Regions from separate parts of the Homo sapiens genome. Here region 2 is linked to region 1. The links come from fine-mapping of genetic effects on gene expression. A gene starts in region 1. The other region holds a variant in brackets. All regions are shown on one strand. Distances are from middle to middle.

The links. PIP is the estimated chance that this variant, and not a neighbour inherited with it, causes the effect.
Region 2: its variant is the best candidate, but not a certain one, in a credible set for the expression of WDHD1 in monocytes after LPS (Fairfax 2014, PIP 0.57).

What each region holds. Positions count from the first base shown.
Region 1 is chr14:55,024,693-55,030,075 of GRCh38, reverse strand. WDHD1 (WD repeat and HMG-box DNA binding protein 1) reads left to right here and starts at 2,977. Exons shown (of 26, transcript NM_007086.4): 1 at 2,977-3,048; 2 at 3,273-3,365. The coding sequence starts at 3,289. SOCS4 (suppressor of cytokine signaling 4) reads right to left here and starts at 2,840. Exons shown (of 3, transcript NM_199421.2): 1 at 2,605-2,840. RefSeq lists enhancers at 2,101-2,627, 2,628-3,155 and a silencer at 2,950-2,999.
Region 2 is chr14:55,068,911-55,074,292 of GRCh38, reverse strand. It overlaps MAPK1IP1L (mitogen-activated protein kinase 1 interacting protein 1 like), which reads right to left. Exons shown (of 4, transcript NM_144578.4): 4 at 4,099-5,382. Among named protein-coding and RNA genes, the nearest start is that of MAPK1IP1L, 20 kb to the right of the region's middle. RefSeq lists an enhancer at 1,960-2,079. The variant TA/A (reference allele first, on the strand shown) is at 2,612.

The sequences.
Region 1 (5,383 bases):
CTAGCTCTGACATTTCGCAGGTGTGTGACTAGATAAAGACTAGATAAATCACAACTTTTCTGTTTTTCTATCTATATAACACTGATTATCTCATCTTGCTGTAGTAAGGATCTAGTGTTAATGTAATACAAGAATCAAATACTGGCTGTCTTTAGCCAGGGGAACTGGATGGCTGGGAGTATGAGTAGGAGGACGACTTTTACTGTATTGCCTTTTATATCATATTAAGTATACATACAGACAAGTACTATTTACCCCAAAATTATTAAATAGGCTAGTAAGTTTCAGGACACATTTGGAAATATAAAAATCTTCACATTTCTAAAGTGCCTTCAATGTTTCTTTTTTCAATACTTTGGTCTCCTTGGCTATTGTTACACTCTTCTAGCCTTACCTTTCACAAGATTAATCATTTTTACACCAAGTACATATTTTACTAGAAAATAATTTTTTAAACTCCTTCCATAAGCCAATACTGATATATCCTCTTAGATAAATCCTGTAAGATCACATGATTTTATATAGGTAATACCATCATTGGTAGAATGGCAATGTACCCATGTTTTCTCACCCAATTGTCCTTGGGAGCAAAAATATTTGTGAGTCTAAGGGTAGTATGAGTGGTTACAACACAGCAAAGCTAACTAACCATCACTGCAATTCAATCTGTGACTTTGGCATCATTTTCAGTCAGTTCATTTAGCCACCCACACCTATGAGATAAGCACTGTTAATGACAAATAACTACATTTGGAAAATTTTTGATACTCCTATCAGTGACACAGCTACACTGATTTCTTTTTAAAAAACTATGTTATTTTAACTAACTAGACAATTTTGCTAATATTTAAGTTACACATCTTTCATTACTGCACTATCATCTTGATCATATTGTTTGAATGTCTATTTCCCTCAGCAAGACCATAAACTCACTGAAGGTATTACAATTTGTAGCCATTTGACTGAAACAAATGGAATTGTGAAAACATGATACTAGCAAAAACAAGAATACATTTTTTAATATTTGAAAAATTTACTGGATAATTATTTAAACAAATCCCACTTTAAACAAAAAACACTAAATACCCACCCAAAGCACCCCTTTAGTAACATGAGATATTAATAACAATTACTTTTATACATCCATGAGTATCTCCTATATACTCTAACAATGCGACGGAGGTAGGTGTCATCTCCATTTTAGAGATGAGGAATTCGATTTTCAGTAAAGGAACATATTCAAGGTCACACAATGTGTCAGTTAGAATTAAAACCCAGGACTGTTAAACTCGGAGGCTCAAGCTTTTACCATACATGCAAAATCTGCAAAGAAAATTGTTCTTTAACCTATGAATCAAATGGCTTGATTGATAAGAGAAAATGACAGATGTGTGGACATCAATCATAGTCTCATGGGTATTACAGATATTATAGTGAAGGCATTTTGTAGCTATAACTTGTTCCAATTTGCAGATTCTTCTTATGCTGAGCTCTGAATAGTACTAACCAGAAATCTCACCACGCTTTATTCAACATAGAGACGAATATTATGAGAGTTCATCTTGAACTCTATGTACTCTAGCCAATGATATTGTTACTTGAACGAAAAAATTTATAAGCCAGTCTATCCAAAAAACAAATGATCTCCAAAAAAAAAAAATTAGGTCACTCAGAAAGCATCATCTCTGGTACCACTGCTCTTTCGGGAGATCAACAGTGGGTTATTTTTCCACAAATCCCAAGTTGTTTTTAAGCCAATCATTCTTCCTCTTCATTCATATACAAACCTCAGCGTCTAGCAAGGCTATCTGGAGCTCTAGTACTAAAAACAACGCCTCACACAATGCCACCCACGGTAAGAACACGACGGTTTGCCTGTGTGTTTGCAACTTTTCACAATGGAACTAGATTGAAAAAAACAATAGGGAAACCTCTTCAACAGAAAAACGTCTCAGGTAATAAAATAAATGTGATTGATACTGGAAGGTATCACAAAAACGCAGAAAAATTCTCAAAGATAAGTACAAATGAAAGAATATCATTCTGAAGGTTTTCATCACAGGCTGCTGTACCAATATGGAGAATGAAGATACAAGAAAAGCATAAACTTAAACTTAGTGGCCAAGACTTTAGCAGATATTGCATGGATCAAATGTAAGTGCTCAAGGCTACTAAGTTATAACTCTTCTTTTGGTTATAAATATTCACTTCAGTAAACTTTAGGTGGGATCTGAATAGAGAACACAAGTTACTTTCTTCATAACGGATATATAGAGTCGCAAAGAATAAGCATTAATTGAGCATTAATTAATTATACCTTCAGGTACCAAGAGAACCAACCGGAACAGAAATTAAGTCATTCCTTCTTTATCTCTACAGAAGCGACAAGGTGAGGGCACGAAGGATGCCAAGATTAGAGGCTCTAGAAGATCTCGCCTTCTTTTCCAGAGAAGATGCTCAAAGATCTGTCTGCTAACTGGGCCCCAAGAAAGAGACCGGATCCTTTTAGGGATCCGGATATTGTTTCCTGGGAGGAGAGCCTGGAGGGCAGGAACAAGACCCCGGCCTGCGAGGCCAGGCAGCGGCCACCCTTCCCCCACTCACCTCCCGGAGCGCAGCTTAACTGGGGTTGTGCGAGTAACTGCTGCCATCACCATCGCCATCAGTCTGGGCGCTTGCTTAAGTGGAGAGGGGAGGCCCAACCACTCCTGCACCTCGTGTAGGTCTTACAAAGCAGATGCTTTTCTGCCACCCCCAACCCCGCTTCGGCGTTCCGGTCCCAACCCAGCCGTCACGGTCATCGCCTCCGCCGGTTCCCTGGGCGCCGCCACCACTTCCGTGTTCAGCTCCCTCCCTTCCTCCCTGATTTGCCCGGGCAACCGGCTAATTTCCACGCGGAGGGCGCCGCAGCTGACGCCACCACCCGGCGACCTCTGTCGGGACCTGCGCTGGGCGTGGGCGGGTCGGCGCAGGCGCAGTGTGGTGAGCGAGCCGAAGCGCGGGAAGCAGCTCTTGTGGATCCTCAGTGGCGGAGGCTCGGTCACCCGGGTGAGTCCCCACTCCGGCTGCCCGCGTCCACCAAGGAGATGCGTGTTCCCTTTCCGGCTTATTGTCTGACAGACCCTCTGCCTTATCCCGCTGGTGTCACTCGGGTGGGGGAAACCGGGCTGCGGAGAACGGGCCCTAGAGGAGACTAAGCTCTCTTCCTATCCCTAGCCTCGCTGCTTTTCTCTTTTGAAATAATAAGACTGGCTTTTATAAAACATTTTCAGATAGGTAAAGGAAAACATGCCTGCCACACGGAAGCCAATGAGATATGGGCATACAGAGGGACACACGGAGGTCTGTTTTGATGATTCTGGGAGGTAAGGTTCTTTGAGAAACAACGTTTTAGGTGCAAATGTTAAAACATTTATCCTTAAACTTTATATGTGCAGTCAGCTAAAAATGACTCATGCGGATAGAGGAATAATGTTGAAATCTAAAATGGCACACATATTTCTTTAGATTATTGTTTGATTCGGGCCGTCATGGTAGTTGTAGTATATCGACAAAGTTATAATCGTACTTCCAGAGGAGTTGGAAAGATGCGAGCTTCTCTCCATATATTTTCCCCTTCCCTGCATCTTACATTATTAATTTTGTCAGATCACTAGTTACTGCCTACTTGTCAAATTCAGTGGCCTGTTCTGTTTGGAATGATATCCTTCCATGCCTTTAGTGATGCTATTTCCCTTTTTGCTTATTTTTTTTTAACTTTTTGACGGCTTAAAACAATTTTTTCCTCTGATTCCTAAACTATAATATTTTCCTACGGTTATTCTGGTCCCTTTTATCTTTCCAAGTCCCATTCTTACGCACTACTGCTCGATTGCACGGCTTCCACTGTCGCTTCTATGTTGATTGATTCATTGAAAAAATACTTGTGTGTCTCTTTTGCTGGGGACTACAGATAGAATAGAGCGAACCAGACACAGTCTTTTCCTCCTTTGAGCTTAAGGTCTTTTTGGATTGACAGGCATTGAACACAAATTAATCACAAAAATAAATGTGTATTTAGAAACAAGTAATATGTGCAGTGATAAACATGTATGAGGAGAAGCTCATCTAGTTAAAGGAGTCAGGGAAGGCTTCTTTGGACAAGTGTTTCTTGAGACGCCATCTGAAGACGGAGCAGGCATTAAGCAGTATAAAGAGATGAGTGGTGGTGGCGGTGGGGTGGTGATGTTGGCATAGTAAGCAGAGGCAATACTGTGTGTAAAGGCCCAATGGGGCCAGGGATCATGGTATGCTCAAAGAACTGAAGGAAAACTAGCCTTACTAAAATGTGGAGAGTGATGCAGAGTTTAGTGAGAGATGAATCTGTGAAGTTAGGCAATGGATGTCCTATCCAAGACCTTCTGGACTTTATTAAGGAATCTCGTTTTATCCTAAAAGCACTGAGAAGGTATTAAAGGCTTGAAGCAGAGAGATGTGATCAGGTTTGTTTTTGAGAAAATGCATGGAGGATGAATTGGAAAAGGAGCACTCATGGATGCAGAAAGACTGTTAGAAGATACCTGTATTAGTTTGTGTAGGGGCGGGTTGCCCCTCCACACTTGTGGGTGTTTCTCGTAAGGTGGAACGAGAGACTTAGGAAAGAAAAAGACACAGAGACTAAGTATAGAGAAAGAAATAAGGGGACCCGGGGAACCAGCGTTCAGCATATGGAGGATCCCGCCAGCCTCTGAGTTCCCTTAGTATTTATTCATCATTTGTGGGTGTTTCTCGAAGAGGGGGATGTGTCAGGGTCACAAGACAATTGTGGGGAGAGGGTCAGCAGACAAACACGTGAACAAAGGTCTTTGCATCATAGACAATGTAAAGGATTAAGCGCTGTGCTTTTAGATATGCATACACATAAACATCTCAATGCTTTACAAAGCAGTATTGCTGCCCGCAGGTCCCACCTCCAGCCCTAAGGCGGTTTTTCCCTATCTCAGTAGATGGAGCATACAATCGGGTTTTATACCGAGACATTCCATTGCCCAGGGACAGGCAGGAGACAGATGCCTTCCTCTTGTCTCAACTGCAAGAGGCATTCCTTCCTCTTTTACTAATCCTCCTCAGCACAGACCCTTTACGGGACGGTCAGGTCTTTCCCTTCCCACGAGGCCATATTTCAGACTATCACATGGGGAGAAACCTTGGACAATACCTGGCTTTCCTAGGCAGAGGTCCCTGCGGCCTTCCGCAGTTTTTGTGTCCCTGGGTACTTGAGATTAGGGAGTGGTGATGACTCTTAAGGAGCATGCTGCCTTCAAGCATCTGTTTAACAAAGCACATCTTGCACCGCCCTTAATCCATTTAACTCTGAGTTGACACAGCACACGTTTCAGAGAGC
Region 2 (5,382 bases), 44 kb before region 1:
TTGCTTGAACCCAGGAGTTCAAGACAAGCCTGGGAAACATAGCAAGACCCCATCTCTAAAATACAATAAAATGGACATAATTTTTGGTACTACTCAGTTTGTAAGGGGATTAAGTTGGGGGAAAAACTTAGGGCTTTAAGGGAAATTGCTTTCTGACTTGGGAGGGAAAAAGACATAATTGTGGCTATGTGGCAGAAACCTTTGGAGAGGTGCCCAGAAAAGTAGAAAGCCCTGTTCCAACCCTCTTTCTCTATCTAGCTCCTCTATCTTAGAAGACATGACTCCCTGTTCCAAGACTGGGACGTGCTTGCTTCTTGCCGTTGGGACTTACTGAAGATAATGTAGCTACAATTCAGTGACTTGGATATGGTTCTTCACCTTTATAAGATGCAGTCTGAGTAGCACCCTAAATAATATAGTCATCTCTCAGTATCCACAGGGGATTGGTTCCAGGACCCTCCTGGGATACCAAAATCCACAGATGCTTGGGTTGCTGATATTAAATGGTGTCGTATTTGCCTGTAAACTACGCACATCCTCCCTTATACTTTAAATCATATCTAGATTACTTAGAATACCTAATACAATGTAAATGCTAGCACATAGTTGCTATATTGTATTTTACATTTTGTATTATTTATTGTTGTTTTCCTTCGAAATATTTTCCACCTGAGGTTGGTTGAATCCCCAGATGCAGAACCCACAGATACAAGCGGCCGACTGTATGTGAATGAAGGGGTAACTTCTACAGTAAAACATGTTTTTTAGGACAAGTTTTTTCTCTGAGGAAATAAAATCTTCACTGGTACTCTTTTTTTGTTATATTTAGGACAACCATGTGACTTATCACAAACACCAGGACACTTTTGTGGATGCAAGGGAGGTGCTTTAATAATTATACCTGGAGTCTGGGCGTGGTGGCTCACGCCTGTAGTCCCAGCACTTTGGGAGGCCAAGGTGGGTGGATCACCTGAGGTCAGGAGTTCGAGACCAGCCTGGCCAACATGGTGAAACCCTGTCTCTACTAAAAATACAAAAACCAGCTGGGTGTGGTGGTGGGCACTTGTAATCCCAGCTACTTGGGAGGCTGAGGCAGGAGAATCGCTTGAACCCAGGAGGCGGAGGTTGCAGTGAGCCGAGATCATGCCATTGCATTTCAGCCTGGAGGGAAAAAGCAAAACTCTGTCTCAAAAAAAAAAAAAAAAAAAAAATTATACCTGGCAAACAGGAACCAGAATGATTCCAGGCCATATATCCAACTGGGACATATAACCACTTGCTTAGAGCACAAGGTTGGTGGTTAATAAATATTAGGATCACATTGTGTACTCCCTGCTCCCCCCGGCATGTGAGGTAAGAGCTAATCACATTGTGTAACATTTAATCCTTAATGTTGATCACCTAATTTTTATTTTTTTGAGACAGGGTCTTACTCTGTCACTCAGGCGTGGTGCCATCATGGCTCACTGCTACGTCTGCTTCTTGGGCTCATGTGATCCTCCCACCTCAGCCTCCCAAGTAGCTGGGATTATAGGCATGAGCCACCACGCCTGGGTGATAATCTGATTTTTAAAAAAGGAATATTCATATAGAGCTACTATATTAGATGTGCATTGTTTGGGGTATGCTAACATACCTAGTGGATCTCTAGCTAGAGGGAATGAAGAATGTTTTTTCCCTCATGGTACTTTGAGCATTATTATGTTTATAGGTAAGGGAAGTGAGCACAGGAAGCTAATCAGTTGCCGTAAATCACACACCAGAGCTGAGCTCAAAGCTTAAAATAAAAACCCTAAAAAACAAATTCGTGACCCAACACTGATTTAAAAAGAAAAGTAAAAAATAAAAATACCAACTCTGCCCTGTGAATCCCCAGCAATTGTGTTGCTCGCTGAACCATGAAGGGCTGCCCTTTAGAATTTGATCACAGAGGCATCGAAGGTGGAGACTTATTACCCCTTTCAGACGAGAAATCTTATGCTGGGAAGCTGCTTTTCCTAGTTCGCACAAGTCCTCTTCATTCCACTTCTATAAAAAGCCCAAGTAAGAGTCCTAATCGTTAGTCATGCAGTTTAGTCTTTTTGTAGATTTGAGCATTCAAGAAAGGACGCAGGTGATTCATTAAGCTTAGTACTTGGGGTTTTTGTGTGTTGCAGTAACTAAGCAACAGTTAAGATATTTTAACTTAGCATGTCCTGCATTGGCACGTTTAAAAAAAGAACTGTCATGCCGTGCTTGGCAGAACCTCACTCTGACTCTTCCACACTCTGTGCAGTTCCTGTACATCTTGGCTGCCCATCCACTGCTAACAGAGACCTCTTCTGTCTCAGCTGCTCTGACAGCCTTGGCCTAGTGTGTGCCACTGCAGGGTAGCTGGATATCCATGTCTCCAATGACTGGTAACTGCAAAGGCTGGACCTGGAACTAGTGGTTTGATCATCCACTACCTTAATTCTCTCATTCACATTTTAAACCCACTCTTAACTGCTATACCTTTGAACATTTGCCTTTATGAAAACACAACTCAAGTTCTAGGTTAGCACTTGAAGAACTGTGATTATTCACAAAACCATGCATTTCAAACATAACCATTAGCTTTTTTTTTTTTTTT[TA/A]ACTGAATATCCGATGAAACTCACTAAATGAAGTGTGAGAGGTCTGCTACATAACATTCAATTTAGATAGATTTGATTGTCCAGATAGTTTTGGAAGAACTGCAGTACTAGATGCCTGAACAAAAAAAATAGAACCTAGTGGATAAACTCTAAGCCTTGATAACAGAAGCACTGGTTCATTATTTATGTGGTATGACTCTGGGAATTTAACCTCTAAACAGGATCTTGCTCTGTCGTCCAGGCTGGAGTGCAGTGTAGCCTCTAACTCCGGGGCTCAAGTGATCCTGCCACCTTGGCCTCCTGAGTAGCTGGGACTAGAGGCACATGCCACCACACCTGGCTAATTCTTCAATTTTGGCTTGTGGAGATGGGGTCTTGCTATGTTGTCCAGGCTGGTCTCAAACTCCTGGCTTCAAATGATCCTCCTGCCCTGGCCTTTCAAAGTGTTGGGATTACACAGGCATGAGTCACTGCGTATCTCTTTTAAACTTGGTTTCCTTATCTCTAAAGTGGCTTTTAAATCTACGTATCTTTAAGGAAAGCTAGACTATATGACCATTAAATAAAACGACAAGCTCTGACATAAAACATAATCAGAGCAAAACTTAAAATGTTCTATTTCCTCTTTTCTTACGTAAAACTAAGTATGGCTTAGAATCCCATATGACCCAATTCTATTACACTTGGGAACCTCTGACTATGATCTAAATAAACCTCAAGTAGCAGACATGGTCATTTATAATGGTAGTTTTTTAAAATTTAAAAGCAGCAAATCTGTCCCCTTCCTGAAGCAACTTATCAGTAAGGAAAATACACGAAGTGCAGAGTGGAACTGCTCTAGGGAAAGCAGGGAGAGACTAAGCGTTATAAGCTCTACTTGGTCCTCTCCTCAGCACTGGGAAAATCAATTTTCCCAAATGAGAGAAAAAAGTTTAAGTGCCACGAGGGCCAGGCATGGTGGCTCAAGCCTGTAATCCCAGCACTTTGGGAGGCTGAGGCAGGCGAATCACCTGAGGTCAGGAGTTTGAGACCAGCCTGGTCAACATGGCAAAACCCCATTTCTAGTAAAAATACAAAAACTAGCTAGGACTGGTGGTGTGCACCTGTAATTCCAACCACTTGGGAGGCTGAGGCAGGAGAATCGCTTGAACTCGGGAGGCGGAGGTTGCAGTGAGCAGAGATTGCATCACTGCACTCCAGCCTGGGCGACAGAGTGAGACTGTCCCAAAAATAAGTAAAAGCCACAGGAATAAGCTCTATGAGATGACCCAAATCCTCTCCTGGCACTCGAATTCTATTGCATGCCTTATTTAAAATAAGTGAGCTAAGATTTAGAATTCTATTTTGCTTTGGAGATCAGTTGCAAAAGGATTGGTGCTAAGAGTATTAATACGGTGATAAAAAAGGACTTGCCTGGGTCAGGTAACCCACGATAGCATGTTTGTCAGAGCAATGTCATCTCACAACAGGAAAAAAAGAAACTGGCCCTGCTCCAGAATGGTCTTATTATTTCACCATCCATTTCATAACTCCACTTTAGGTGAATACTTTCATGGGATATTGAATAACATATCAAAAACAATTTAAAATTTTACAGCTGCATTTTGTCCAATCATAAGGCAAAAAGCAGAAATTCCTTCCAAAAGTAGCACTGCAAAGTATTCATTCATTCATTGCCCTACTGAAATTGGGAGTTCCAAGGAATGCCAGCGAAATCTCCTGTGGGAAAATGGTAAACTCCAAGTTTAATAATGTGACCCTCACTAAATGCGTAGCAGTTAATGATAAAAGTAGAACTATCTTTCATAACAGAAAGTGGGGGAGTGAGGGGAGTAGGGACAGACAGAGAAAGTTCCCTGACTTCATATTATCATATATACGGATAATCTGGTTACCAAGAGTAGCCTAGCCTTAAAAGAAGAGAAAATCACCACAATGGACACCATGTTGCTGAGAGGGTTTGCGGAGGAAGGGTGGTTTCCAGATATCCTTAGTGAATGCAGGTCACATGCAAAGAGGTATCTCAGGCCCTTTTTTCTTCCTTTTTGACAACAAATTTACAGTTAATTAGGCTCTGGACTTGCTCAGAGAAGCCCAGAATTGGGCCTAAAGAATAAAATAACATGAAAAATCTGTGAAACCATGAAAATACATTTTTTAAAAAAAGTTTCCAGGTATAATACACAAAAGCAAACAAGTTTATCTTAAAAAATACCAAGTATCACATCCATAGCCTATTCCTAATTATAATTACTTCTTAAAGCAACATTTGTCTTTGTTTACAAATACAGCAGCAGGTGATAAAACCTAGTATCTCAAACTGATTGCTTACAATTTATAATACAAACATATGTATATGTCTCAAATCACATTTTAGGCAGTTTAACTTAAAATGCATAGACAATTACATACATTAAATTTGTCATTACTGTCAGTGAAAAATCACAATTTCAAGAAGAAAATTACAACAAACTCATAGAGCACACATAAGAAGTCAAGTTCACTTAATGGCAACAAGTCAGTATCTGCTGATCAGTGACAGGCAGTGAAAGTGCCTTTATCCAGGGGTAAAGTGAAGAGGCAAACTATCCTGTTACTTTGCACACTTGAATTGTTGCGCTGATCAACACTACAATCTTGAAAAACATTAAATTCTTAAAAAAAAAAAAAGGCATGCCACATGTCACCCTTTAAGATGCCCAAAGGCTGGTTACAATTTCCACCAGTAGTGATCCTAACACGTTTAGGTAAAACTAATAATGAATGGGTA